Linked DNA regions of Homo sapiens: all the other regions are linked to region 1. The links come from fine-mapping of genetic effects on gene expression. A gene starts in region 1. Each other region holds a variant in brackets. All regions are shown on one strand. Distances are from middle to middle. Region 1 holds the start of EPSTI1 (epithelial stromal interaction 1). Region 2 overlaps AKAP11 (A-kinase anchoring protein 11). Region 3 overlaps EPSTI1 (epithelial stromal interaction 1).

The links.
Region 2: its variant is fine-mapped to the expression of EPSTI1 in breast (GTEx, PIP 0.94).
Region 3: its variant is fine-mapped to the expression of EPSTI1 in whole blood (TOPMed, PIP above 0.99). The same link has a PIP of 0.9 or more in B cells.

The regions. Positions count from the first base shown.
Region 1 is chr13:42,987,118-42,997,525 of GRCh38, reverse strand. It overlaps EPSTI1 (epithelial stromal interaction 1), which reads left to right and starts at 5,285. Exons shown (of 11, transcript NM_033255.5): 1 at 5,285-5,548. The coding sequence starts at 5,361. RefSeq lists enhancers at 4,652-4,891, 5,152-5,271.
Region 2 is chr13:42,275,126-42,285,533 of GRCh38, reverse strand. All of the region lies in intron 1 of AKAP11 (A-kinase anchoring protein 11), which reads right to left. Among named protein-coding and RNA genes, the nearest start is that of AKAP11, 8.2 kb to the right of the region's middle. RefSeq lists an enhancer at 981-1,482. The variant C/T (reference allele first, on the strand shown) is at 5,999.
Region 3 is chr13:42,882,716-42,893,123 of GRCh38, reverse strand. EPSTI1 (epithelial stromal interaction 1) reads left to right here. Exons shown (of 11, transcript NM_033255.5): 11 at 4,622-6,736. The coding sequence ends at 4,630. Among named protein-coding and RNA genes, the nearest start is that of LINC00428, 15 kb to the right of the region's middle. The variant T/A (reference allele first, on the strand shown) is at 4,838.

The DNA.
Region 1 (10,408 bases):
TCCTGCAGCTAGCAGAGATCTTGTGACAGCTACTACACAGTGTTAGAACCCAGATATGGCAGCTGTTACCTACTCCTCAGATTTGAATTTACAAACAAGGAAATTCAGCCACCTATCTGAGGGTAGGAAATATCATTTAAAGCACATTTCTACATTCCTCATTTCCCCAAGTGACAGTACACATTGTCATCCGAAAAATAGTGTATCTTTCCATTCTTAAGTAGAATTCTTTGCACTACACTATAAGGCTCACTATTTTAACACGGTTAAAGAAAAGGCCTTTTAGCCCAAATGTAGCATATTTGCAATTCATGAAATGTTGACAAGTTGTATAAAACAGCATCATTGTAGAGATCATTTGATCGTGTAATTATAGGGGTAAATATTGGAGTGTTAAGGTTTTTATTAATGTTGATTCTGACAGGTTCAGAAACTTTGGCATAGTCATTTTGATTTTAGAAAGTAATGCACAGCTGCTCATTGGGATAATTATAATAAGTAAAAAACATGCCGAATTCTGAATTTTGTCAAAAGAGACATTTTGTCACAATCATCTTCCAAAATATGAAAAGCTACACTTGGGGCTCGGACAACTTAAATTTATGTTCCAGCTATGCCACTAGTTTGTGCGCAGTGCTGGTGAGTCATTTGGCTTCTCTAAGCCTCTGTCTCCTTGTTTAGAATAAAGTGGTTAGATGCTCTTAAATATGAAGGTGGAATAACAAGATTCTGTCTGCTTACCACTGTAGCTCCATGGTATGATGCAAAGAATGATACATGCTTGTCATTCAAAAAATATTTCCTGTACGAACTTATGGTGACTCATAATTGTACCATTTCACAATTCTATGGTAGGATTTGAAGAATTTCACATGGAGTTGTCACAATACAGGTATGCTCAAACACATACATACACACACACACTAAAAATGAGGAGATACCAAATATTCAGAGTTTTACATAACTCCTTTGTTAGAAGAGAAAAAAAAAACCTTTAGATAACTGCTGTCCTAAATCTCTTAGATTAATCTAACTTTCCACTGAAGAATCAAATTTAAGGAAATGTGACTTTTTAGAATTTTCAAAAACTAAGATTTTTTTCATTTACACATTTTATGACAAGAAAAGTCTTAGAGTTTATGTATCTCTCTCTATATTTGTACATATTAATGCAGGAGTAATCTAAGGCAATTAATTTAAAAATCAGACATATATTCCCATTTATTTTCTTGAAAGAAGACACACTTAGACATGTTTGCAGTAAAATAAATTGGTAAAGTTTCTTTTTGATTTAATCTTCTCTCTTAAAGCTCATAGGGCTGGCTAAAATTGCTCATTGTATTTCTGAATTTCCATTCCCCAACAATGCCTCATTTTATGTTTTTCTTTACACAACTTTTGGAATCCTTTTTCTTTTCACTCAGTTCTCCTCTTCCCCAGCCAAAATGTCTTTTGCTCAGATTAAACTCATTTACCAAAAGGAACGAATACATGATTATTTCCCAGAGGCAGTTTCATTTGAAAAGAAAAACATTTCCTAAATGAATCTCTAATTGGCCAAATTTCAGGTAAGGTAACAATCCCACTAGATTTCACTTCTTTCTCATGTCTCTTAAAACATATTCCTAGGTAATTGTCTAGTATGGTGGTTTTTCAAACTTTTAAAAGCCATTGAATTCTTGCCTCAAACAAAATTAGGCAGTGGCCTAGTGAGTAGAAGAGATAAGGGGCTAAAGTACTTGGCTAAATAGGGATAGGGGCCCAGGACCCTCCCCACTCACCTCTGCTTCTCTCCACCAGCCACTACTATAGAAAAACGCACCCAAGAACAACTCCAGTAAAAGGCCAGCCCTTATTTTCGCCCAAATGCACACACCTACGGTGAAAGAATGGATGATACACAAGTAGCCCATTCTCGGGCATCCAAAAGGAGCCTGTAGATGTCTGTTGCCATAATAAATCACATTCACTTTTTTTTGTTGTTGTTGTTGAGACGGAGTCTCGCTCTGTCACCCAGGCCGGAGTGCAGTGGCATGATTTCGGCTCACTGCAAGCTCCGCCTCCCGGGTTCACGCCATTCTCCTGCCTCAGCCTTCGGAATAGCTGGAACTACAGGCGCCCACCACCACGCCCGGCTAATTTTTTGTATTTTTAGTAGAGACAGGGTTTCACCGTATTAGCCAGGATGGTCTCGATCTCCTGACCTCGTGATCCGCCTGCCTCGGCCTCCCAAAGTGCTGGGATTACAGGTGTGAGCCACCGCATCCAGCCTCACATTCACATTTTTTAAAACACTTTGAGAATGTGGCAAAACAAGAAGTGAATGGAGTGAGAAATCTCAGGTAAAACAAGAAGTGAATGGAGTGAGAAATCTCAGGTTTGAAACTTTGGTGTGACATGTGGTTGTGTTGTGAAACAAATATGGTTAACTAAGTATATTCTTGAGGCCAACATCCCTATTACTAGCTCCTTTAGGAGAATCAGTTTTCCCCCAGTGTGGGTTTTCCCTTCCTCAAACTTTAAATTTCATCCAACCACCAAAATAATTTTCTCCTTTGAAACAAGAGTTCCAGGGGTATTTTCCTAGTAAAGAACAATGTGGAAGATGGCCTCCAGAAAGGCCCTGCTGTTCCTCTTTTTTGTTGATCTCTAGGTCTGCGTTTCTCACCCCGCTGGTACCTTACACCCAACAGCACCTAAACAGACTTTTAGAACTTCCCTCAAAGCTTGTCCCTCCTCTAGGTTAATGGTTCTACCTCGTATCCAGTCACAAAGCTAAAAGTCACCATAAAGACAGCAACCATTAAATTACTGGGGCTATAAGGTAGGCATACTGTGAAGATCAGGATTTTTCAACTTCAACACTGTTGACACGTGGGGCAGGACAACTCTTTGTCATGTGGGCCTATTCTGTGCATTGTAGGATGTTTAGGAGCATCCCCGGCCTTTACACACTAGATGCTAGCAGCACCTACCCACTTTGAGGCTTCACAATCAAAAATATGTCCAGGCATTGCCAGATGTCTGCTAGAGGAAAAATCAACTCCATTTGAGAACCACTGATGTGGATGATCTCTATTCCTCACAATACCCACATGAGGCAGAGGAGGAAACTGGATCTCTGAGGAATTAAGAGATTTGGCCTTGGTTGTGTGGCCAGTATGTGGCAAAGCTGGTCTCAAAGCACTATAAAAGCCATCTCCCCTTCTCTCTGCTGCCTTCCAGTACTCAATTCTCTCTTTCATCTAGTTTTTATCTATGCTAATCTCTCATGTGAAATGTCTTTTATGTTTTATTTATTTGTTTTGTAGAGATGAGGTCTTACCATGCTGCCCAGGCTGGCCTTAAACTCCTGGCCTCAGGTGATCCTCCTGCCTCAGCCTCCAAAAGTGCTGGGATTACAGGCATGAGCAACTGAGCCTGGCCCATGTGAAATGTCTTGATTTTGCTCCCCACTTTCTGGGTTGCCTTAGCTCAGATCTGTATTTCTTACCTAGACGTAACTAGGCTCTGAATTTATCTTCCCGATTTCAGTCTCTTCATCTTTCAATCTCCGTTTTCACATTGTTAGAAGCTAACTTTGTAAAACAGATATTATTGAGTAACTGCCCTATTGAAAAACTTCCTGTGCCTTCCACATTGCCTACAACAGTGGTTCCCAAAGGGTGATCCTGAGACTGGCATCATTGGTATCACCTGGAAATTTGTTAGAAATGCAAATCCTTGGGCCCCATCCCAGACCTGAATCAGAAACTATATATATATATTTTTGAGATGGAGTCTCTCTCTGTCGCCCAGGTGGAGGTGGGGTTTCGCCACGTTGGCTAGGCTGGTCTTCAACTCCTGATCTCCAGGTAATCCTCCTGCCTCGGCCTCCAAAAGTACTGGAATTACAGGAGTGAGCCACCGTGCCTGGCCATAAATCTGTTTTAACGCACCCTCCTCCAAGTGGTTCTGATGCTTACTGAAATTTGTGAAACTCTGGCCTACTCTACAAAACCCTAATGTCTTAGGATGGCATAGAAATCCTGACTGACTTTCCTACCATGTTCCTTGTCATTATTTTCTCCTCTCCTGTCCCACCCTGGCCCACCCTTCAATTTCATTCTTTCATTAGCTATCAAACCTGTATGTGTCTTTTTGTTCTAAGCACCAATAATATAAGGAAGACAGTCCAGCTCCTAACTGTCTTGCTGACCTAGGACTGGGGTGCTCCAGCCACATGACAACCCCTGGAATTAAGTACACACCATGTCATTTTAAGTGACAAGCCTCTGCCATAGCATCTCCTTCTTCTTGGTGAATTCCTATGTCTTTGGTGGCTCATTCTCAAATGTCCCTGTTCCTGAATTACTCAGAGGGCTAATCCCCAGTTTCTCTGTGCCTCCACAGCTGCCTGTCATTTCATTTATCCCAAAGTGGCATTCCCATTTGTTTACCTGTCTACTAGGATACTCCTAGAATGCAGGTAGCATGAGGGAAGAGCCTTCACTCATCTTTGTGTAGACGGCATTGTGACCCTGGTGACCAACCCTGGCACACATCAGAATCATCTGGGAGCTTTTCAAAAATATGAATGCCAGAGCTCACCCCTGAACCTACAGGAACTGAGCCTTACACATCCATATTTTAAAATGTCCCCACATCACCGTTGCACACTGTTCTGCACAGAGCAGGTATTTTTAATAGTTCTCGAATGTCTAGTCAATTACTTAGCAAGGCTGCCTGGAGAATCATGTCTACCTTAGCTTACTTCTCCGGCTTTGTAGGTTTTTGTTTTCTTTTGATTTCAGTTTCCATTTCCTCTAACTTGAAAGTATGTGCATTGGTAACAGCCACACAGCAGTCATTACTGATAAAAGGCGACATTTTGTTGAGATGATTTTAGTTATTGACCTAATCTCTGGTATTTTAAGGTTAATATATTTTTTACAGTCTCAAATATCCAGCGGTAACCTCAAATTAGAGTTGCCTGTTAAACAGTTTCTCAAGTATCTTTCAGGATTGTAGTCACTCTGCGGGCTAATCGCTCACCAGGTGTCCGTGGCTGATCCCAGTTATTCTGATTAACCTCTAAGGTGATTGTGAGACTTTAAACCGTCTCACCTGTAGCCGACCAAGCCAGCTCAAGTCAACATCCTGGGCTGTTAACCCGCGATAAGGTCGGACGGGGCCTCAGTGGAGAATACGTGGGGAAGTTCTCTGGGGCGGGCGCAGTCTGCTGCTGATTCTGAGAAACCGAAACTCAGCTGTTAAAACCGCTGCCTCTGCACTTTGGAATCCCATCTTGAGACTCGCTAAGCGTCCCAGCCGCATCCCTCCCGCAGCGACGGCGGCCCGGGACCCGCGGGCTGTGAACCATGAACACCCGCAATAGAGTGGTGAACTCCGGGCTCGGCGCCTCCCCTGCCTCCCGCCCGACCCGGGATCCCCAGGACCCTTCTGGGCGGCAAGGGGAGCTGAGCCCCGTGGAAGACCAGAGAGAGGGTTTGGAGGCAGCCCCTAAGGGCCCTTCGCGGGAGAGCGTCGTGCACGCGGGCCAGAGGCGGTGAGTATTTTAACAACCTGGCTTCGGGGCGGGAGCCCGGGCCCCAAACATACTCACTCACAAGCACCTTGGTCCTTGGAGTTTAAAACCACAGGGGCCCAACAACAGGGATTTTGACTGAATGAAAGCTCATTTGCTTAAATGAAAGTATCCATGCCGCACCTTATAAATTGAGTCGGCTAGTTTGCAGTCCTTTGGTAAATAACCAGCCCGGTTCCTTCCAGGAATACTACTTTCCTGATTTTTGTGACTGGCTACAGGATTGAAAGATATGGGTGTGTCGGAACTGCCTAGGCATCCAGTAAGATGTCATTTTCCAGGTATCTCCAGAACTCATACTCCAACCAGTATGGAAATAACTTTTCCCTTACTGTTTTTAAAAATTTGGTGCTGGGCCAGGCGCGTTGGCTCAAGCCTGTTATCCCAGCACTTTGGGAGGCCAAGGCAGGCAGATCACCTGAGGTCAGGAGTTCGAAACCAGCCTGGCCAACATGGTGAAACCCAGTCTTTACTAAAAATAAAAAATAAGCTGGGTGTGATGGCACGTGCCTGTAGTCCCAGCTACCTGGGAGGCTGAGGTAGGAGAATCGCTTGAACCCGGGAGGCGGAGGTTGCAGTGAGCGGAAATTGCGCCATTGCACTCCAGCCTGGGCAACAGAGCGAGACTGTCTCAAAACAAAACAAAACAGAAAAACAAAACTTGGTGTCCTAAACGGAATTACTGTATCAGACACTAACAGGTAAGGGTCAACAAGAAATGTGATATGGGGTAGAAGGTTCAAATTCTGCCTCTAGGTAGGAGCAAGCCTACGTCCCAGCAAGACTCGCAGATAAACTAGCCTCTTACAACCAGAGGAGTGGAGCTGAGAGAGTGAGGAGGTGAGTGACCATAGTACCTCTCATCCCTGATGTTGATATGTGCTCTATGCAGGAACAGATAGGTAGCTTTTATTCCTGGTCTTTGGTTCAGGGACTGCAGTGAGTATCCGGGAAACATTTATTAAGCAAGTGTCATGAGCCTCTCTTTCTAGCCAATGGAATGAACTTTAACTCAACAGTATGGTTTATCACAACATCACTGCCTTTGAAGTGCTGCCTCTGTGAATTGGAACTGTCCAGATGGTTTTATTTTTAGTCTCTCCTTTTTCATCGACTTCTAGTCTCTGAAAGACAAACCCTGGTTGCTAAGAAACAGTATATAACCTTATGGCCGATAAACAGTAGATTTTCTTTCATCCCTTAGCTTTTGGAAAGTACCAGGCCTTTAATATTATTATTTAGCTTAGGTTTACCCTTAGATGGGGTGGATAATCTGGAAATCAATTAGAGATTGTTGCATTTCTTTCCTCCTCAGAATAATTAGTGTCTCGCCACAGTAGAAGCAGCCAATTACTTTCAAGTAACCCACGTATCTACAAGCTATAGTACTTAACAGTAACAAAGGTCACAGACATATGGTCTCGTGTCCATGAATAGTTAACGATGAACATGATTTGCATGACTTTTTTCTGTTAAAAAGCATTTATTTAGATACAACCATTTATTTCTAAGCTCATATCATCGCATAAGTATTAACTGTTGCATCTGTTTTCTTATTTGGTTGTAATTACCCTGGAATCTTGCCAGATCAAATTGCTCAGAAAGAGGCAGCTTTCTGATGGGTTATCCAGGCCTTAATACCCTGAAGAGCTCACTGTACACTATTTTGCGATTCCTGAAAAGATTTTCAAATGAACCATTAAAAAAATACCAGGAAGTGTTTAGTTATCTCTCACAGAGTCTTCCTTTTTTTTTTTTTTTTTCCTCATGTGAACCAGTTGCAGTAAGTACAGAATTATATATTCCCTTTTAGGGGTTTGATGTCTGAGATCCTGTTGGGATGACTTTGAATTTTTGTTGCATCTCCATTAGTTACTTAGATTCACTTTCTCACTTGTTTCCTTTAATGAAGTTGGAAAACCAAGGAAAATGAATGGCAAATATCTCAGTAGAATTAGCTGCCTACCCGCTGCCCCAAAATAAAGAAGGCTTTATTTATTTTGGGGATAAAAATTAGAAACACTTTCTGATTTAAAAAAATGAAGAGGCCGGGCATGGTGTCTCACGCCTGTAATCCCAGCACTTTGGGAGGCCGAGGAGGGCGGATCACGAGGTCAGGAGATGGAGACCATCCTGGCTAACACAGTGAAACCCCGTCTCTACTAAAAATACAAAAAATTAGCTGGGCATGGTGGCAGGCGCCTGTAGTCCCAGCTACTTGGGAGGCTGAGGCAGGAGAATGGCGTGAACCCGGGAGGCAGAGCTTGCAGTGAGCCGAGATCGCGCCACTACACTCCAGCCTGGGCGACAGAGTGAGACTCTGTCTCAAAAACAAAACAAAACAAAACAAAAAGCAAAAAAAAAAAAAAAAGAAAAAAGAGGATAAAGTGCTTTAATAGTACAGTTTCATTTGTCCACTCATAATGTGAATTTATTTATATGGTAAAAGATTTGTCTTGTTTTGTGGGAATCCTTCCATTAATTTCCTCCTGCAGCCCCAGTGTGGGGATTAGGAATATGGGCTCTGATGCTGGGTAGACCTGGGTTCAAGTTCTGATTATGCCATCACTTGCTCTTTGAACAAAATCCTTAGCTACTTTATGCCTCAGTTTCCTCATTACTTAATATAAGACAATACCAACTTCATAGGGTTTTAATTTTTCCACGTGTATATGTGTAAAACATAACTTTATTCCTGGTAAAGTACTATGCTGTCACCCTTAAGTCGAATGTTTGTGCCTTGTTAAAAAAAAACACTGGTTTAAAACACCTACTTGTGGTCGGGCGCAGGGGCTTGTGCCTGTAACCTCAGCACTTTGGAAAGCCAATGTGGGAGGATTGCTTTAGTCCAGGAGTAACATAGGGAGTCCCTTGTCTCTCCAAAAAAAAAAAAAAAAAAAAAAAAATTTAAATTATCTGGGCACGGTGGCACATACCTCTGTCCCAGCTACTCAAGAGGCTGAGGCAGGAGGATAGCTTGAGCTCAGGAGCTCCAAGACTACAGTGAGCTGTGATTGTACCACTGTACTCCAGCCTGGGCAACAGAGTGAGACCCTGTCTCAAATAAATAAATAAATAAATAAATAAACCACCTATTTGCATAGAAAGAAAGTATACTAGTAAAAATCTGTGGCTATCAATATATTAAATTATTCTGAGTACCTCTGATAGACTCTCAGACAAGATTGAGTTCTTTTTTTTTTTTTTTGAGACAGAGTCTCGCTCTGTCGCTCAGGCTGGAGTGCAACAGCGCAATCTCAGCTCACCACAACCTCTGCCTCCCGTGTTCAAGCGACTCCTCTGCCTCAGCCTCCTGAGCAGCTGGTACCACAGGCACATGCCACCATGCCTGGCTAATTTTCGTATTTTTAGTAGAGACGGGGTTTCGCCACATTGGCCAGGCCGGTCTCAAACTCCTGACCTTGTGATCTGCCTGCCTCGGCCTCCCAAAGTGCTGGGATTACAGGCGTGAGCCACCGCGCCTGGCCAAGATTGAGTTCTTGATGGAATTTGGATTTAAGTTATTATAAGTATTTACTAATTCATACTGGCTTTCCCAATTATTTTTACTTGGTGATTTTTGTCTTGTCCTTAAATATCAAAGCTGTCTACACAAATTAAAAGAGAAAAAAGCTTACACAAACTTCTAATCCAAAGTAAACCTTTATCCTTCCTTTTAATATTCTGCTTGTTTGTAAATATTTTACATTATTTATATCACCTCTAGATAAATATAAGACAAAGACATGCATTTACCTAGTTTTATCCAATTCTGGGAAATGGGGTCTTGCCTGTGCTGGTAATATAGGGTTGAATTCACATTCATGTACTTGTCTAACCATACCTGGTCCTTTAGCTTGATGCTGTTTGAAGAAAATAAAAATATATTTTGAAAATGAACCTATAATATGGAATTTTATTTTACAGTTAACTTGAGCTGAATTTGTATGTAAATTATGTTAATCTTAACATTTTTGTGGCCTACTTCGTATTAGTATTGTAGAGACTTCAACATGAGCAATAATAATAATAGCACTTACGTAGTAGCTAGTATGTAAATGCACACTATGTATACTAACTCTTTCAATCCTCATAACCACCATGGAATGAGAGGATCTCTAGCTTAAAAGAACTAATTAAAAACTAGGAACAAATAACTATTCAACACAAAATAAGCCCTTATGAAGCTTACTGTCTAATTGATGGGACAGACATTTATTAATATGTGAACAAATATGTATACTTTAAAGCAGGGGTATCCAATCTTTTGGCTTCCTGGGGCCACATGGGAAGAAGAATCGTCTTGGCCCCACACAAAATACACTAACACTAATCATAGTGGATGAGCTTAAAAAAAAAATCGCAAAAAAACCTCAATGTTTTAAGAAAGTTTATGAATTTGTGTTGGGCCACATTCAAAGCCATCCTGAGCCACCTGGGCTACATGCACCTTGTGGGCCCTGGGCTGGACAAGCTTGCAAGGAAAGCTGGGGTCTCAGCTGGTCTTGGGAGCAGGAAGATCTTTCCTTAGAGGTGACGTTTGAGCTTTGGTCTACAGGATCATTAGGAGTTGTGTGGTTTTTTTTTTCCTGACATCAAATATGTCATTCTAACACCAACTAACTGTGACCCCAACTAGGTGTCCCACAGTTCAATTCTAACACTAACTACTCAGAGTTAGTGTGGACCCCACAAATTAAGGGCTCAGTCCCACAAAACTGCCCCCCACTTCAGACTTCAGACACTAGCTGCAAATGGAGTCTCCAGGCTACCTGTATGTCTACCCACCAGACTACAAAGTTGGGGGTTCCCATGCATCTC
Region 2 (10,408 bases), 710 kb after region 1:
TACAAGAGAAACAAGATAGATATGGCCCTCCTGCATTCAAAGCCTTCAAAGGAAAAAGTTTCATCACAATAAAGAGTAGAAGTGGGGAACTAAATACTTTTTTTAAAAAGTCAAATAAATATTTAAGAAATTCTTAGTTTCAAGTATTTTCAGAAAATCAATCTGGTCTTATCAAGAACTGCCTAGTTGAAGCCAGGCACAGTGGTGCATGCCTGCAGTCTCAGCTACTCGAGAGGCTGATGTGGGAGGACTGCTTGAGCCCAGGAGTTCAAAGCCAGTCTAGACAATATTGTAAGACCCAGTTTCTGAAAAAAACAAAAAGACAAAAAATGAATTGCTTAGCTGAGGTTTCCAAGACATTTGGTTAACATAAATTTATACTATGAGGAGATTTATACGCAAAAACAAACTTCAATCTAGCCCCCCACCGTCAGAACTTTTAAAAAACTAAATTTTAGTGAAGTTCAAATTGTATATTCTTTTGCTATGCAGATAAGACTATAGCGTGAGTGCACAAACACACACACTTCTTTAGAGATTTCTACATTTTAATTTTTAGACAAAGAAGTATGATTGTATTCTATTCTGAACTAAGATAAGCCCTAGTGGTCTCTATAACAATAAAATCTGATTAATTACTGAAATTGAAGCAGCAGCATGAGAAAGGCTCAGCCTAACACAAGGAGTTCCCAACAGCACAAGGTAAAGGGTGATACCCCAGAATCCAGAAGACGATCATGCGTCTCCCTGTGCTGCCTCTTATTAGCTTTGTTTCCTCTGGGTAAACTGCAATGTCTCTGGAACTTTTTCCTCAATGTATATGATACCGTATTTACCAGAGAAGTTTACTGTGAGACTCAAATGAAAAATAATTTATGGGAGGTACTTTGAAAACTATAAAACACAGGCAAAAGAAGACTTAAATATTTACCTAAGGACCAAAATGATCAAGTGGACCAAAAATTATCAAAACAAAGTTTAAGTATAAAAATGTATAGTGGCCAAAGCAAAAAGATAATCCTTTTATTTGTCCCAGGCCACTTCACTCTCCTTTCTTCTCCACAGTGTTCTCCTCAACTGCCAGAAAGCCTCAGAGGCAAGTGGGCTTTTCTCAAATGTAACATAAAACATAGAAGCCAACATAAGGGTTCCAAGAAACCAGAGACTGTCAAAGAAGGCTCCTAAGTAAAGTGGCACCTGCAGGGCAGTTTTGTAATGCGTGTCAAAACCCTGGAAATACTTCTTTGACTCAGCATTTCTGCTTTTGGGAATGCATCAAAGCAAATAATGATCCTAGAGCATCTAGTTTATTAACAAGGGCTCATAATGCACCAAGTGTTCTGTTTTGCTAAGAGGTTTATGTAAACATCTCATGTTGTCCTTAAGACTACAGAATAGGACCCCGGTTTGACGATGAGAAAAACTGAGGCAAGAGGAAGCTTAGCAATTTGCCCAGGCCCACAGAGTAAATAAATGGCACAGGTGGGATTCAAGTCCAAATTTTCTAACTCCAGCACTGGGGCTCTTCACCACTCCTCTACAGTGCATAAAGGTTTTATAGTCTGGTTCATTACAACTCACAATAGAAATACGAAGCAATCTAGATGCCAGAAACAAGAGAGTAATTAAATGATCTTAGGTTCATTCCCACAATGACGCCATGGCAGCCATTAAAAACAATACTGCAGGACAAAGGAATGGCACGCCTTACATCACTTTCTCTGAGTCTGCTCCTAACCTTGCCTAAAAGGGAAGTAGGGAAAAGAGATAGGAAACAACAATTACCTTTGCAGCTGCTGACTAAAGTCAACTGAGCAAAGATAAACATTAACTCCCAGGAGACTTCACCATCAAATAAATGGGACCAACTATCTAAATGAGCTGCTCACCCTCAGGTGCAACAAGCACCTAAGGTAGAAGAAACAGTTTCAAAGTTGGGCAGGGAGAGGTGGGAGTGCTCTGAAACAACATCCGGGATTTGACAGGGCTGGCTACCCCAGTTCACTTTACCCACAATTTTCCTGAATAGCAGATCCAGATAAAACACCCTTATTCAAGATTGAATAATAAAGCAAATGGAATTCAGTATGGGATCTGCGAAGGAACACTGAAAAACAAACAACATACAATATACATAAAAAGAAAAAATCCAGACAAATATAATCATGCCCCTGAGACTCACATTATCTCAGAATTCAAATCATTGTTTGAAATTAATGAAAGAGAAACAGTTTAATTCTATATTTACACTCTGTTTCACTCATGGAAGAAAAACAACTTACTGCCTTACTCCACCACTTTTTCATTTAAACATAAATAAAATACTGTCTCAGGAAGAAAGAAATCTATTAGAGAATATCTGTGCAACATAAAAGTGAATCCAATATGAGATGATATGACATACTTTTGTAAAGCAAAGAAAAAAATCATCTTTGGAAATGATGCAAAGATTGATGGGGGAAGAAAGGATAACAGCTACTAGAGCAGGATTTCTTTAGCATCTTATATAATTAGAGAGCACATCGTTTTTGACAGATTTCACAAGAAGAACAAAAATACAGTATATTCACCTAAAATACATTTGTATTATGATAAACTTTTCATTTAGTGCTTTACTGCTTTGTGCCCTATTCTGGATGAAGAAACAAGAGTCCTAAGCAAAGAATAACTAAGTGCGTTATCTATAGTCAAAGAAATTAAAGTGAACCTACATGGCTTGGAAAAAAGCAGATGAGAGACAAGAAAGAGGCAGACAAGGCAAACAACTACGAAGTGAACCACTATAGCTCAGGAAACACACAGAAAACTATCACTAAACAAATGAAATCCCCTTAGAAATAACAAAAAAGCAGAACAGACATTGCTAAAAACAATGGAAAACCAAGAAGATTTTAAGAAAAATCACAGAATGCAAAAGTAAACAAATGAAAGCAATTACAGAAACAATTATAAAGAATACAGAGAACAGAGATATAGGGCACTTTAAATAAATACACATATCCTTTAGTCCTGCTATTTCACTTCTTAAAATTTATCCTACATATATACTTGCACAAAATTCACAAAGATATGTGAAAGACTATTCACTGAAATAAAATGAAAAAACTGAAAATAATCTAGAAGTTCATCAATTCAAATAAATTCACATGATTATTACTCAGCTATTGGAAATAATGAGTTAGAGTGATCCATACTGGCGTGAAAGAGCAAGTTGCAGAATGGTGTTAATAGGATGCTCTCACTTGTAATTTAAAAAAAAAAAAAAAAAAAAAAGACTGGCCTAGCACAGTGGCTCCCAGCACTTTGGGAGGCCAAGGCAGGAAGATCACTTGAGGCCAGGAGTTCAAGAACAGCCTGGGCAACATGGCAAAACCCAGACTCTACTAAAAATACAAAAATTAGCTGGGTGTGGTGGTATATGCCTGTAATCCCGGCCACTCGGGAGGCTGAGGCACAAGAATTGCTTGAACCCAAGAGACGGAGGTTGCAGTGAGCCAAGATTGTACCACTGCACTCCAACCTGGGCCACAGAGTCTCAAAAAAAAAAAAAAAAGAAAGAAAAAATTATATACAGACACAACTCTGACACACATATGTAAATATTTGTGCATCCACAGGAAATGACTTGAAGGAGGTACACTAAACTGATGCCAGTGGTCACCCATGCAAGTGGGACTTTTAAATTTTATAAAATGTCATCTATCTACAATATGAGAAGATGGTAGATCATTAAGTAAAATAAGACAGGTTCTGGCATATTAGCATTATCCCATTTTGTGAAAAATCTGTATAACTACATGTGTGTATCTATATATGTAATATAAAAGAAGACATACACTAGATGAGTACAGACATTGGTTTCATCTGGGTAGATACAATCATGGGTGTTTCATTTTGTGTCTATGTATGTTGAGTTTTGTACTTTTCTGAATGAACATAAATTCTTTTATAATTAAAAAATATATATTCTCCAAGTCTTTCCTTATCTCCTCTGACCTAAGAAATGTTCAAGTTGACATCACCTATTACTTGACCTTTTTTGTATCAGGAGAATTAACTATGCCAGTCTGTGAAGCGCCTGTCAACAATATTGCCATATCTTGACTCTCTTCCTACTGCACTAGTTCTCAAACCTCAGTACCTGTACACATCAGCTTATTTCTAACACACACAACTCCCCCACCAGAAGATCCAAATTCAACAGGTCTACATGGAACATAGGAATCTGTACTTTTAACAACTGCCACATGTAATTTCTGGTTGAGAAAAACTTGTCTCTCTGTATGTAAGTTTCCTTTCCTAAATTATTTCATAACTTGTTACTCAAATACTAATATTTCTTAGTCTTCATCCTTATCCTCTTGTCTCATTTTATTTAGTTTTTCAAGGACATTTTATCCTTACCTCTGGTTTTAACTATGCAAATAACTCCCTAATTTATTCTTCAGTTCTGTATATCTAATTTCCTATTAGACACTTCCAACTAAATATCCCAGTTACTCCAAAATTTGTATGTTCAAAAGGTAAATAAAACTTTCTCCCTAAACGATCTCCTCCTGTATTCTCTATCTCAGTAAGAGCCATTAAACCAAACCCAACCAGTAGGCCAAGCTGGAAACTGGTCTTCCCCTCAATTCCTACAGACTACCTCGCCTAGTAAATTGCCAAATCCTGACTTGTCATTCTCCTAAACTTCTCTCAAATCTACCCTCTCTCTTCCACCAGCTGAACTGCTACTTACTATTCACGCACCAGTTCAAAAACTTCCCTCCCTAAAATAGGCTTGGCTCATATCTCTCCTTTATCCCTCCTTGCCCAAATAGTAACCACCTCCTTTGTGCTCTCTAAGTGGTTTATAATTTAATCCTCTGGTGCCACTGTTTGCATACTTCCCTCCTGTTGTAAGTTCCATGAGGACAAAAGTGTTTTATGTATTTTTACATAGTAGGCATTCAAACATCTGCTGAACTAATAAATAAAAAGTAACATATTTAAAGAACAAAGTTCAAAGCATGATGTAGGCTGAAAAATATAAAACAGAATAAAGAGCAAAGTATGCCTTCAAATATTTAAATGAGTATGTCTACATTTAATGAGTTTGTGAAAATACATTTGTGTTTCCAATAATTTCTACTTTATAGTATCTGAGATCACATTTAGAGTAAACACTCCAAATACACATTTTGACCAAATGCCAAATGGCCAAGTGTTAAAAATTAATATTCTGTTGAATATAACTACAAGAAAACAGGACAGAATATATATGAAACATTGGTTTTAAACATCAGACAACAGGGAACACGGGATTGTGATCCCTGAGAGAAGGGAAACACTGGCTGCCAGCTACTTCCAGGTCACAATACAGGGACAGGAAAGCCAAGCAGTCTGGTGGTTTCACTGAGTTTTAAACACAGATCAGTTTGGAGAGACCAAGATGGCTAGAATTTACAGGGTATTAAGCTGGAGGGAGAGCTGAAAGTAAGTGAGAGCCCTAGAGATAAACCATAATATATTCCACCAGAATAGAAAAACCTTGTAATGTATCAGGTAATGATAGACTCCTCAGAAGAAGTAGCAGCCTTAGTAGAAGCAGCCTTAGTAGAGACAATAATTCAGCACTACGTTAAAAACTGTTCTGGACCCACACTAATAAATTCTAAAAGCAAGCCCTGAAACAACCCAACAGATTCCAAGTAACTGTGCACCCCAACTAAATCCAACACACTTCAGTAATATAATAAATCAAGCAAGCAACAGTATAAACTCAATGGCTGGCATACAATAAAAATTACCAAGCATGCAAAGGAAGAGAAAAATATGAACCATAACCAAGAGAAAAAAAGGCAATAAATGAAGACCTAGAAATGACAGTGATGATGGCAGGAACAGAAAAGGATTGTAAAACTATAGTACAAATATGTTCCATATACTCAAGAAGTGAGAGGAAAACATCACCATAAGGAGAGAAGGAGAAGATACAAAAGACACCAAAATTGAA[C/T]TTTTAGAGATGAAAATTAAATATACTGAAACGAAAACCATACTGGATACAATTAACAGATTAAACTAGAGAAGAAAAGCTCAGTGAACTTGTAGACAATGTAATAGAAGCTATCCAAAATGAAACATGGAGAGACAAAACTTAAAAACAAACGTAGAGTGTAAGTGACTTTTTAAGCACCATAAAAGGTGAATAACTGGAGTTCCACGAAGAGACATAGTGAGTAAGCGAGTGAGTGAGTGAGAGAGAGAGAGTGTGTGTGTGTGTGTGTGGGTGTGCACGTGCGTGCACTGGGGAAGTGGGTGCAGAAGAAAAAAAAATTTGAAGACAAAATAGCAGAGAACTTCCCAAATTTGATGAAAACCGTAAACTGACAGTACCAAGGAAGCTCAGCAAACCCTAAGAATAAACATAAAGAAAGCCAAGGCAAATCATAACCAAATGGCTGAAAACCAGTGATAAAGAAAAAATATTAATTGACCAGAAAAAAAGTACACATTATATACAGAGGAACCAAGGACAACAGACTTCACATCTATATGAACCGGAAAACAAGACAATGGAGCACTATCTTCAAAGTACTAAGAAGAAGAAAAAAAAAAAAGCATCAACCCAGATATACTCAATGAAAATGTATTTCAAAAATTAAGGCAAAATAAATTTATTCACATGAATAAGGGCCGTGAAAATTCACCACCAGTTGACCACCACTAGAGTAACTATGGAAAGAAATTCTTCAGGCAAAGTAAAACAATACCAGATGGAAATCTGAATCTTACACGAAGGAATAAAGAACATCTGAAATGGTAAATATGAGGGTAACAGAAGTTATTCTTCATTTTTCAATCCCTTTTAAACAGTTAAAATATAACTGTTTAAAAATAGTAACAATTAATTAGAGGGTTTAAGACAGACATATTGATAAAATGTATGACAAAATAGGATAAAAAATGTGGCAGGGGAGATGGAGACAAAAAAAGACTGTCATAGATTTCTACATTAAACATGAAGTGATGTTATTTGAAGAAAACCTGTAATAAGTTATCTTGTAAACCCTAACACAAACACTAGAAAAATAAAACAGAATAATACCTAATAGGTGAACAGCAGAATAAAAGTGATGTTATCCCCCTTTTTGCAAATAAGGAAGCTAAGTTCCTTTCTTGGGTACAGACCTGTTATTTGACTTACAAAATCTAAAACTACTACAGCTATCAGATACTATTTTGTTTTTCAAAACAACAGTCAATCGTATAAAATGATTTTAGTATGTCTTAATATCTATTAAGATATTTGCTTCTTTATAGTTTCTGCCTTTTTCCTTTTTAATCCTCAACCTCATTCCTGCATTCACAATATATATGTTCTTACCGCTACAGAGTTTCTCAATCTCAGCATTACTAACATTTTGGGTCAGATAAGTCTTTGTTGTAGGAGGCTGTGTATGCATGGTAGGACACTTAGCAGCTTCCTTGGCCTCTACCCACTAGATGCCAGTAGCACTCAGTTGCAGTAACCAAAACTGTCTCCAAATATTACCAAACATTTCCTTGGGGAGCAAAATCACCACTTACCCTATTTTAGCACTTTAGACTACAGTGCCTTATGTAACAGTTAAATGTCTACATGTCTATGCCCTGCACTGGACTGTAAGTACTACCAACGTTCAACACATACATTCACCAAGCGTCTAAGTAACAGTGATTGGGATACAACAGTGAATTTCATTCCATCGCCATGCCTTACTCATCTCTGCATTCCCCAAAGGCCTTACTCATAATAAGCAACTATAGATTTACTGAAGTGAACGAGCTGTACGGTGAAGAGAAATTTCATCAATGACGTGAATGCAGACAGGCATTTGGTGGCAAAAGCAACATCACCAAATAGAAAATAGGGCCACTTACCTAATGACTTTTTACAAAATTAATCCAAGAATATTTGTTCTGTCACTTTTGTTTTCCCAAACAGTCACAGAGAAAAATTATTGATTTTTCAACTGCATTCCAGATTGAGATCTACTTATAAGGTATGTTTGAGCCCAACTAGCCACTGGTATTGAAAGGAATAACATGGGTCTAGTTGACAAAGTACTAAGTGTGAATGGCTACTGACTTCAAAACTACTTATTCAGCAACAATAAACACAACTTTTAAACATGCAACGGTCCATTGTTAGAAGTTAATTAGAATAATCAGATGAAGGCAGGAGGATAAAACAGTTAACATTTTCATAATAAAAAACTCATTAGACCTACATTTGAATACAGTTTTAAGAAATCACTGTAAAGGATATATGCCCTCAAATGATTATCTTAGTTTCACTATTGAGTGTGCATCTGTAATATATTTGACTTTCAAAAATATTTTCAACAACTGATTTATAATAAAACTTTGTATATGTGTATGGCAATATTATAAGGATGATATGCTATAATTAAAATGCTATGTAATTGAATACCTACAAAAAAATGCAACAACAAAAAACTAAAATCTTGAGATTGTGCTTTCAACATGAATATGCTCCCTAGAAAATGGAGTAACATTCTTAATCTTGTACGTAGCCCTATCCACAAGACTATTTCTAACAGAAAATATGTTCAGAATTTTAACCCAGGAACACATTTCTTTTTATCAGTGACATCTATGACGCCATGACTCTAAGAGTATATTGCTGAAAAGGCATTTAAGTAGCTCTTACAGATATAAGGATCTATCCTAAGCTGCCAGTAGCCGAAATAAGTCAACAGATCTACTTTGCAGATGGGCCAGTCATAGGAAGCACCCAAAAGCCCACACAGAACCTATTAACTAACAGGGTATATTACAGCATAAAAAAAGAAGAATGTGAAAAATAACTTTAAGGTTTTAAGCCTGGGATGCTGAAAGAAAATTTTTTTCTTTGCAAATCAGAAGGTAAATCAGAAGGCTTTGCAAATTAGAAGGTAACTGGAAGACAGTATTTTATATCAACATAGGAATATCCAAGAGGCTAGGTACAGTGGGCGCATACCTGTAATCCCAGCACATTGGGAGGCCAAGGCAGGTGGACGGCTTGAGCCCAGGAGTTTGAGACCAGCCTGGCCAACACGGTGAAACCCCACCTCTAAAAAAATATAAAAATTAGCTAGGCGTGGTAGCACACACCTGTGGTTCCAGCTACTCGGGAAGCTGAGAAGGGAGAATCGCTTGAGCCCTGGGAGGAGGAGGTTGCAGTGAGCCAAGATTGCGCCACTGCACCCTAGCCTGGGTGACAGAGCAAGACCATGTCTCAAAACATATAAATTATATAAATAATAATACCCAAAAAAAGAACTAAAAATTAAGAGATTTACTTGGGGTCAGAGATGGAGATGTTACTCTAAGAATAATCCACATATAGAGAACCTGAAAGCTGGTCTCAGCGACTGGGAAAGAACAGAAATTCAAGAGAGCATCTATGAAGACAACCATGATAAAGGGTTCCAGGACCGGCATAAAAGGAACCACAAATAAATGGCAGTCAGAAAGGTAGGTGAGGTAGAGATTTAGAAGAATTTAGTGTCACTGAAGTCAAGAAATGGTTTTAAGCATGAGTGGTCAGCACTGGACTTCTAGACTTCTTGAGGGCAGAAATTCCTTCCTCTCTGAACACGACCAGAAGCCTGTATCACAGTACCTGCCACACGGTATGCTCTCAACAAATACTAATACCGTACCCTTGCATTGTGCCTGCCATATGCCAGACACTGTTTAATTGCTTTACATACATGAATTCATAATTCTCACCACAGAAGGTGCTATTATGCCCATTCTACGCATAGGAAAACTGAGTCATCAAGCATTTCAGTAATTTGCCTGAACTCCCACACCCAGGAGAATCTGTCCTGTAAAGAGACTACTGGTTAGATCTGGTTAGAACATTACCAAGCTGAGAGCAAGTTCAATGCAATGCCAGAGGAAGAACTCAAATTGCAGGATGTTAAAGCACACCTGAGGTATCCATCACTTCCTCCCTGTCCACTCTCCTTTTGTTAAATATGTTGGCATGGCCAGTTTAAAAGGAGCAGCCCTGCAAACTGTGAGACAAATCTAAGTCTCTTCCTCATCCATTTTTCCCATTCCTATCTTTCCTCACTCTCCAGCCAACTGTGCTAGAAGCAGAAACCTGACCAATTGGATTCTCTCTCTAGAAACATAACTGAGACTTGGAGATGTTTGCTGAGAACCATGTTGCATAGTCAGTGAGTCTGATGTTGGCATCATGGCAAACCAAAGTCTCATGCAAATCAAAGTTTTGGGGAAGTGGAAACCAAGAGCTTTAAAGAGAAGGCCAATCTGAAAGAAACTGGAACAGACCTGCGTGAGTAGCAGAGACATAAGACCATGTGCTTCCAGAGAAAAACTGGAAGAGTAACTGCCTGAAGACTTT
Region 3 (10,408 bases), 100 kb after region 1:
CTTTATTTTTTTCTTAAACCCACTGTTACAAGGTTTTAGAATCTACCCATCAAAAAGAATGTTCTTTTCATGGTCACTAAAAATGTTCACATTGCAAAATCCAACGATTATTTCTCAATCTTCCTCTTTTGACTGATCGCCATTCTTTGTCATGGTGAATCACTCCCTCTTCTTTGAAACTGTTTCTTTACTTAGCTTCTGTGACACTGTACTCTCTCCTGGGTTTTCATATACCTCAGTGATAACCCGTTTTCATCCCTCTTTGCTGAATTCCTTGCATCTGCCTGTCCTTTCAACAGTGAAGTGCCTCAGGGATCTACCTTGGACCACTTTCTGAACTGATGTTCACTTAATACATTCTTTCTTATGAAATTAGATACTCATTCATTCTTATGAAATTAGATACTATCTATATGTTCATGACTCCCAAGTTTCTATTTCCAGCCCAGACCCCTTCCTCCAAACTCCAGACTTGTGTACCCAGTTGCCTACCCAACACATCTCTACTTATCCAAGATATGTAATAGACATTTCAGCCTTAACATGTCTAAAACCTAACCTTTGATCCCCTTTACCCTAGTGCTCTGTCTGCACATTTTCCTGTTTCCATAACGGTGCAATCCCTCTCTCACACCCACACAGCTAGCCATCAACAAATCCTCTTGACTCTTCCTTCCCAATACATCCAATCCAACAGCTTCTCACCACCCTTATCATCATTATCCTGCTTCCAGCCTCTCTCAGTGCTCATCCAGATGCTTGCAGTAGTCTCCTAGATGGTTTCCTTACTCCCACAATTACTTACCTACAGTCTGTTCTCGATACAAGACTGACAGAAGTCAGATTCTGACTCTGCATACCCCTCCAATGGCTTTCGCCACCCCCAAATCACTTGGAGTAAAAGCCGAAGTCCTTCCAGCAGCTTACCAGGTGCTGCATGATCCAGACTCCTTCTTAGCCCTCTGGCTCTCCTGCTGCTCTCCTTCTTCATTTCTCTCTAGCCACACCAGCTTTCTTGCTGAGAGCACTGGGTGCTCTGTCTACACTATTCTCCAAAATATCCATATGGTTTGTCCTCCTTCATTTACTTTCTTGAATTCCACGGTCTCAGTGAGATTACCTTGGCATCCTAGTTAAAGCTGCTGCCTGTCCTCTCACCCTGGCTCCTGCAGTCCCCTTTCTAGGCTCCCCTCCCTTTTTCTATAGCACTCTTCAACTTCTAACATACTTTTAAAACATAATTTCCTTGTATGTTTTGTTGACTGTTTACTCTTCGCCTCTCCCTGTGGTGATGTATGTTCCACATTCTACAAGGGTGGGGCCATTGGATTGTTGTGTTCAGTGGTGTATCCCAGGCATAAAACAATAACTGGAACTTACCACACACACAAGGAAACAAGTGGTTGTGATTCAACATCACAAACACAATAGAAAGACTTAGAGCCAGATGATTTCACATGCTAAAATGATTAGATACTGAATTTAAAATCACGATGTATAAAACGTTTGATGAAATAAAAATTGGATTTGAAATAATGAGGAAAAAATAGGAGATAATGAAAGACAACCAAGCAGACTTCAAAAAGAATTAAACCAAAATGCCATTTCTTATCAATTATTTGGCAAAAAAAACCCTCCTAAAATATTGACAATATACTCTGTTGGCAAGGCTGTGGGGAAGTGGGTACTTTACACATTATTGGTGGGCATGCAAAATGATACAAACACTATCAACATCTATGTCTTACTGTCTTCCCATTAAACGAAGACCAGGCCTATACATATTAGAGCCAAATTCTATTAAACTTTCAAGGAACAGATTATTTCAAATGTCTAGAAAGTTTTTCTGATTAAAAAGAAGGAAGTATTATCCAAAATGATTAAGCAGGTAAACATGACTTTGAATTAAAATTAGACAAAGACCGTATAGAAAAAAAATAGACTATCACTCATAAACATAGATTCAAAACAATCACAAGATTTTGACAGAATAAATATGAAAAAGCATAACATATCCTGATGAGATAGAATTTGTTCCAGAATTGCAAGCTTGGCTTATTGCAGACAAAACAAAAAACCTACTGAGATAATTCACCTCATAAATTATAAAAGAAACTCCATACGATCATCTCAATTAGTACAGAAAAAGCATTTGCTAAATTACAATACTCACTTGTGGTAAAATCTTCTAGGAAACTAGGAATAGAAGGGAAATTTCTTTGCCTCATAAAGGGATCAAAACTGTATAATAATAATAAAAATACATTAAAAACATTTCCGTTAAGATATAAGGATTGAAAAGGGGGAAAAAAAGCCTTTATAAATCACAGATGATACAATTATTTACGTAGAAAATCCAAAAGAATTTACATTCAAATTATTAGAAGAAAAAAAGGCTTGGCACTGTTAGTAGATATAAGATCAATATGTAAAAACTACATTTCTACACATTAGGAATAAATAAAAAATCTAATAAAAAGATCCAACCAAAAATATGAATGACCCTTTTTAAAAAATTCTAAAATTAGCCGGGAGCGGTAGCTCACGCCTGTAATCCCACCACATTGGGAGGCCGAGGTGGGCGGATCACGAGGTCAGGAGATCGAGACCATCCTGGCTAACAAGATGAAACCCCGTCTCTACTAAAAACACAAAAATATTAGCCGGGCGTGGTGGCGGGCTCCTGTAGTCCCAGCTACTTGGGAGGCTGAGGCGGGAGAATGGCGTGAACCTGGGAGGCGGAGCTTGCGGTGAGCAGGGATTGCGCCACCACAGTCCAGCCTGGGTGACAGAGCGAGACTCTTTCTCAAAAAAAAAAAAAAAAAAAGAAAAGAAAAAAAATTCTTAAATTTTGTAGAAAGATGCTGTGGAATAAATAAATGGAGAGTTATACCTTGTTAATAGATAGGAATGAGCTCTCAAATAAGCTATAGATTCACATAAATTGGAATCAAAGCAAAGAACTGAGAGTAACCAATTCACTCCTAAAGATAAAGAAGTATATATGGGGACTTAATTGTGTATTTAATGCGGTATGCAGTTGGCCCAGCACACCCAACATTTCTGAATTTTTTAGTTTTTTGTATGACAGACGGGGCAGAGCACATCACTGGGGGGAAACAGACTCTGGCAAATGCTGTGGGGACAATTGAGTACTTACATGAAATTAGGTCCCGACATAATTCATAAAAAAATTCTAACTGGATTAAAGCTTATAAGTAGGAAGGAAGACTTTTACATTTTAGAAAATAAAAGAGGCTGTTTATAAAATAGAGCTGAGAAAGGATTTTGTAAGACCCAAGGTATAAACAACAATAACAAAAAAGATAACTATATCTACATTAAATTTTAAAACATCTGTTCATAAAAGAATATCATACAAAAGTAAGAGGAGAGGCCATAAATTAAACTTTTATTTAGGACATGTTCTGCAAATAACAAGTGGACAAAATTAATATATAGAATTAGCAACTTAAATTATATCAATATATTTGAATTACTATTAAATTAAGGATATGTCACCATTTAAAGACTGATAGATGAGGACTGAGCTTCTCCAAAGAATGAAAGAGGAAAGCTATGCCTCAATTCACAGAGGCTTGGAGGAAATATCGGAACCAGTAAAAAGCCAGAGACAGAGTAAACAAGGAGGAAGGCAGAAATTATGATAAAACCAAGCCATGGAAAGAAGCAGTGGTTTCTTGAAATGTCATATAGACACTTAAGCAGTAGGCCCCCAATAAGTGTGTATGTTAGGTGGATTGATTTTTATTTTTTAATCATTGTTAATTTAAATCAGTCTTCTCATATTTCTTAACATATACATTTATTCTTCAATAATTGCTTTTATATGTAAAAAATATATTTTTTTATTTTTCTAGGGTTCTCTATTAGTTTTTTCGAGGCACCTAAGGTGGGTCACTTAAAAACATCCCTTTAAATAATATTTCCTCTGATACAATAGGTGAGGCTCTTTGGGATGCTGTGGAAACTCTAAATCCTATGTCTTCAGGGGCAGTTAAGCATTTCCTATGACCAATGAGGCAACCTGAGATTTTAATTTCTCAAAGTGTTAGAAGAAACAGCAATGGTGTGTATTCCATACGTAGCGTGGCCCAGCACTGCAGAAGGCTTGATGGAGGTTTCTTGACCCTTTGCACATGGTAGGAGTGGAGACTCACCAATCTATCTCCCTACATCAAGGTCCTCTTAGAAGTCACCTTTCTGCTGTATAATACAGCGTAACCCTACTTGAGACATTTCCATTTAAATTGCTCTGTTCCACATGTGTTCATCCTGTCCTTGCTGTAACTGTGTAGGTGGGTGACAACATTTTCGAACTGTATATTTGTCACCTCTGTTAGTCTATCTCTAAGAACACAGCCAATAAGACATCACTTGACAAGCCATTACCTTATTGACCAAGACTATTTTGTGAATCAAATGCAATGTGACTTGAAAATCAAATCGTTTCAATGGTCATTTAAGTTGTTAATTTTAAAAAATGGTCATTTCAGCTTGATGCATAAGAGCGTTCTTTGCAGGAACTTCATTTTTGACTACAAAGGCTTTGAATTTTATTTTGCTGCTTGCAGTAATTTTTGTTTTCTTTTTCTTCCAGGGTATATGAGAAAATATTGACTCCTATCTGGCCTTCATCAACTGACCTCGAAAAGCCTCATGAGATGCTTTTTCTTAATGTGATTTTGTTCAGCCTCACTGTTTTTACCTTAATTTCAACTGCCCACACACTTGACCGTGCAGTCAGGAGTGACTGGCTTCTCCTTGTCCTCATTTATGCATGTTTGGAGGAGCTGATTCCTGAACTCATATTTAA[T/A]CTCTACTGCCAGGGAAATGCTACATTATTTTTCTAATTGGAAGTATAATTAGAGTGATGTTGGTAGGGTAGAAAAAGAGGGAGTCACTTGATGCTTTCAGGTTAATCAGAGCTATGGGTGCTACAGGCTTGTCTTTCTAAGTGACATATTCTTATCTAATTCTCAGATCAGGTTTTGAAAGCTTTGGGGGTCTTTTTAGATTTTAATCCCTACTTTCTTTATGGTACAAATATGTACAAAAGAAAAAGGTCTTATATTCTTTTACACAAATTTATAAATAAATTTTGAACTCCTTCTGTATAAATGGGTCATTTTTATTTTTAATGAAAAGTTATTGGGGTTTTCTCTCTTGAAGGGTCTCATTTTAATTCCCTTTTCCAGGCCGTATAGATCAAATATAGTACTGTCATTACTGTTGGCTCTTGTTTTGGTCTTGACTTACTAATAGTGTTACCCTGATTTTCAGAGGGGGACAGTTTATCTCCAGAAAGGCCAATGTTTGTATACACATCAGCTAGACACAAATATAGACATCATATGTAGTTTGTACATGTTTCAGAAACTTGTTTTTTCTTTGCTCTGTGTAACCTATTTCCTATTGCTAGTTCAGTTGGCTTTCTTATTCACTTCTGTGACCCTGAACCAGTTCTCAGACCCTAGAGTGTAAGAGCATTGATTTTCTACGCTGTGTAATCTAGCTCAATCCCTCTGTCCCCTCCGCCTCACCGTCCCCCAGCCACCACATTGTATAGCAAAAGCATTACATTCAATCCTAGAATAAAGGTAAATACAACAAATCATCTTTGCAGCTGGACAACTAATAATACTTTGCAGCATTAAGAGATCTTCTGTGTTACCAGTCACTCTGTTGAAATGAACTTTCCGAATCTCTTTATTCAGGAAAACATGGGGTTTTGAAATTCTTGGGCCAAGAGACATAACTGAGGGGTTCGCAGAGCTAGGCAAGGGTGCACTAGGAAAGGGCCACATTGGTGGGTGGGGGGTAACAGAGAACAGATGGTGTCAGGAAGTTTCTCTGGAGTAAATAATGTGGATATTCTTGGTTTCCCTCTCCTCCGCCAGCTGAAGCTGTGTTAGTGCTGTTGACACTAATATAAAATGTTTGGTCCATTTGAAATCCTTGTCATTGCCTTATATGGGGGAAACTCAATCCCCCAGCCTGTGTTGGAAATATCACCAAACTGATTGTAAATGTGCGGCTGTAGCAGACATTTTAGTGTGGTGGTGTGCAGCCATTTCGGCCCTACACCTGCCAGCCTGGCTACCTTACAGTTGTGTTCCGATTTTTGCGTCTATGCTTGGTGTGCCTCACTTGCTGCATTTTCCAGCATGCAACCAGGAGTTGACGTAGGAAAAAGGGATGCTTTCTTACTTTGGAAGCTCTCAGGGAAGTTGGTGTCAATTTCTCCTCCACTGCCTGGCCTACCCTGCACTCCCAAAGATTTTGTGCAGATGGGTAGTTCCATTTTTTAAAAATTGTGCAGATATGGAAAATTGTGACTTACTTCATGACCAGAACTATCTAGAATATGTGTGGGGGTATAAACATCTTGCTTAACCAAATATCTATGTAGGCAGAGGTAACCAGGAGAGAAGCAAGACTTGCTGCCTAAAGGAGCCCACCATTTTACTTTTCACATTTAATCTGCCACGTTGAATCAATTGGAATAAAACCTGACTCGCAGGTGACTGGACAGGAAATCCCAAAGTTCCACCATTTCTATGCTTAATTTTAATGTCCCCCCGCTTTTTTTTTTGTAGAAAATAAAAACAAGAAAATCGTTCCAATGTAAGATGTTTGTTATAGAAACTTTAGGCAATACAGGTGTGTAATAAAATGTTTAATAAACTTCTAAACACTTTTGTATTTGGATTTACCACTTTTTCCTTTGTGGTTTCTTCTTGGTATTATGTTGATAGATCCTAAAATCTACAAAGCAACAACCTCTACCCAGTGGCCTATTTTAACAAAACAAAGGATTTCCCCTACTACTGGGCTTAGTTATATTATAGTAGATAGTCAGGCAGACAGGAGCAGGCCAAGAGAGGCCCCCACTACCAGGAATGTCAGGCAACCATCAGGTGATGGTCAGCCAAGTTATTTTTGTTGTTTTTCTTTTTTTTTGAGATGGAGTCTCACTCTGTTGCCCAGGTTGGAGTACAGTGGCATGACCTCGGCTCACTGCAACCTCTGCTACCCGGGTTCAAGAGATTCTCCTGCCTCAAACTCCCAAGTAGCTGGGATTACAGTCTCCCACCCGCCACCACGCCCAGCTAATTGTTGTATTTTTAGTAGAGACGGGGTTTTGCCACGTTGGCCAGGCTGGTCTCAAACTCCTGACCTCAGGTGATCCGCCTGCCTCAGCCTCCCAAAGTGCTGGGATTACAGGCATGAGCCACTGCACCCAGCCGGCCAGCCAGTTGTTAAGCTGACTCTCTAAAGTAATAATTGGTTGCAGCCAGTGCCAGGGAAAGGCAGTCTCCCAATAGATAGAAACACCTGAAACTGGTGATCAGCAGCTTCTGATAAGATCTCAGGATTTGGGCAAGAAAGCTCAAGCATGTACATTAAGGGGCAAAATGGCAGAGTTTAACTGATACATGACCTTACAGGAACATTCGACTGGTAAGGGAAGAACGCCTCAAGTAAGTATATGCACAACTCCAGTAAACACACTGGGCTTGCGGCCCCTCCCAAGTGCTGGCCGGCCACTGCGCATGCAGACAGCCCACCCCAAGGGAATCATTGACTCCAGAAGATTGCCAACATATAAAACCCCAAGTCAAAGGCCAAACCATGCACCCAATCTCCCAAGTTGCTCACTTGGCCTTCTTCCAAGTGTACTTGACTTCCTTTCATTCCTGCTCTAATTTTTTTTTTTTTTTTAACACAGAGTTTCATTCTTGTTGCCCAGGCTGGAGTGCAACGGCACGATCTCGGCTCACTCAACCTCTGCCTCCTGGGTTCCAGTGATTCTCCTGCCTCAGCCTCCCGAGTAGCTGGGATTATAGGCATATGCCACCATGCCCGGCTAATTTTGTATTTTTAGTAGAGACGGGGTTTCTCCATGTTGGTCAGGCTGGTCTTGAATTTCTGACCTCAGGTGATCCGCCCGCCTTGGCCTCCCAAAGTGCTGGGATTACAGGTGTGACCCACCGTGCCAGGCCTCTAATACTTTTTAATAAACTCTCACTCCCGCTCTAAAACTTGTCTCAGTCTCTCTGCCTTATGCCCCTTGGTTGAATTTCTTCTGAGGAGGCAAGAATTGAGGTTGGGGCAACCAGTACAGATTCACTGCTGCTAACAGTTGTAGATAATACAGGTCAGGAGATCTTATTCCATTCACAGGATAGGCCTAAGAACTCACATTTTTTGTATGTTTTTTTGTGTATGTTTTCACACTAGAGACATTTCTTGTGGTCCCTAAATACTTTATGTTCAAAGGAAACATTGCATTTTTTCTTTAGGTCGATTTTTTAAAAATCAAGATAAGAAGCCTACATATTTAATTTGGAGATTCGGTTGTCTTTCAGAAAGTATATTTAGAAAAATTACATTGTAGTTATAGTAAATGTAGACATATTTTAAAGTAAAACCCTTGACATTTATAAAGCCAAAAATTTCAAGTTAAAATTCAAAGTTTTGTGATAACTCTGGCTAAAAACTAATTTTTAAAAACATGTAATCATAAAAACAGTGCCTACAATCTTAATTTTAAATTTCAGGATATTAAGCAGATAGGTTGTAATTAGCTGGACTTGTTTGTCCAGTTATGAGAGGATGTGTTTGGAAGTGTGGCTGCCAGAGGAAGTAAAAGGAATTGTTCTGAAACTATTAGCAAGTAGAAGAAAATAGAAGGTTGTGGGCTCTTTGTTTTTATTAATAACTCAGTGGACTAGCACATCTAGAAACTAGCTCCGTGCTGATGTGCATGAAATAATATCGGAGTGAGGTATAATAAAATTTACATGTGGAGAAAGAATATGCCTCTCCAGTTACCATGAGGATTGCATAGAGAATAAATACATGTTAGGCATTCCTTCAAGGAAGGGGCTCTGATTTGGAATTCCTCCCTCCCTTTAAAAATATTCCCTTGTTTAACAATAGAGTTTAAAAAGCATCACAGAGGATTATCATTTTTTTTCTGCTCACAGAATTACATGCTCAGAAGTGAAGGGTTTATATAAAGGCAAATGGGAGAAGCATTTTCATGACATTTATTGCCATGTTGTGCCATCTGCTGGGACAGAGGCTACAGGGACAGCTGTACTGCAACACACACCTCCCCTAGGAAGCTGATTTATTACAAGCCCTTTGCTTTGCTGCTCAGCTGCAGGGCATGTGCTCTGAACATTCCTTCTCACCGTCCCTGGAGGACACTGACCACAGCTGAGCTGAAGGAATCGTCGTCAGTCATCGGGGGTGACATTTCATTCCCTACAAAACCTTACACCAGTGATTGGCACCAGATTATGAACTGATTAGAAATTTCTGTTTTAGAAACCATAGTTGAGCTAAAATGAGTAGAAATTGTGCTTTAGTATGGAGAGAACAGAAACTGATGGGAGAGGGATATTTGAAATTGGACATTGTGAATTAAGAAAAATCAGAAATCAACATTTAAATATATGTCTATAGTCTGTTTTAAATGTGGCACAATGGAGACACAAAGTTAAGTGGTACAGGTCCTGTCCTCAGGCAATGGAGCAGTCGGAATAGGCAAAGTTATGGTGACCACAATAAGCAGCCCCCACCTCTTCTTGGATTAGCAATAGTTTCTTGCCCATGCTGCACTTTATGCACAGGTCAGCAGAAGCCTCTGCTCACCTTAGTCAAGGACTGAGAAAGGCTCTGTCTGTTCTTATGCTTTCCATACACCAAGAGGAGGACATAGTGGCAGTATTCTGTGCTATCTCCAGGAAATGCTTTCTCCAGGAAATGACACATGCTACTTCTGTTCACATGTTATTAGCCAGAACAAATCATGTGGCTATTCCTAATTTTAAAGGTGTGGGAAAGAAAATCCTACAATTTTCTGCAACGTACAAAGGAGGAAGAGAACAAGAACATTTGTAAATAACCCTGATTATCCCCCCAAGGAACACATTCTACAGTTGAAGAAGACACAGACATATGAAAGCTTAAGATCAAAGACACATACAAATTCAAAACAATATCAAAAACCCAGTTCAATTCAAACTTTAGTAAGGAACTAATATAGGCCAGGCACTATGCTAGGCATGGAGACTACAATATCGTACAAACCAGCCACTAAAGAACTTTAGTATGAGTTAGACACACACACACACACACACACACACACAGAGAGAGAGAGAGAGAGAGAGAGAGAGAGTAGGAAAAATGAGATAGAAGCTATGCAAAGCAATGAGATAAAAAACCTAACACGAATGGCTTTTGGTGCCATATCAAGTAGCTTGAACTTTTAAAAGGTTATAAGCAGGGCATGGACCTGATTAGATTTAGCTTTTTATTTTAAATAAATCATGAGTGAACCCAAGAAAGAGATTTGAGGGAGGAAAGCCCAGAA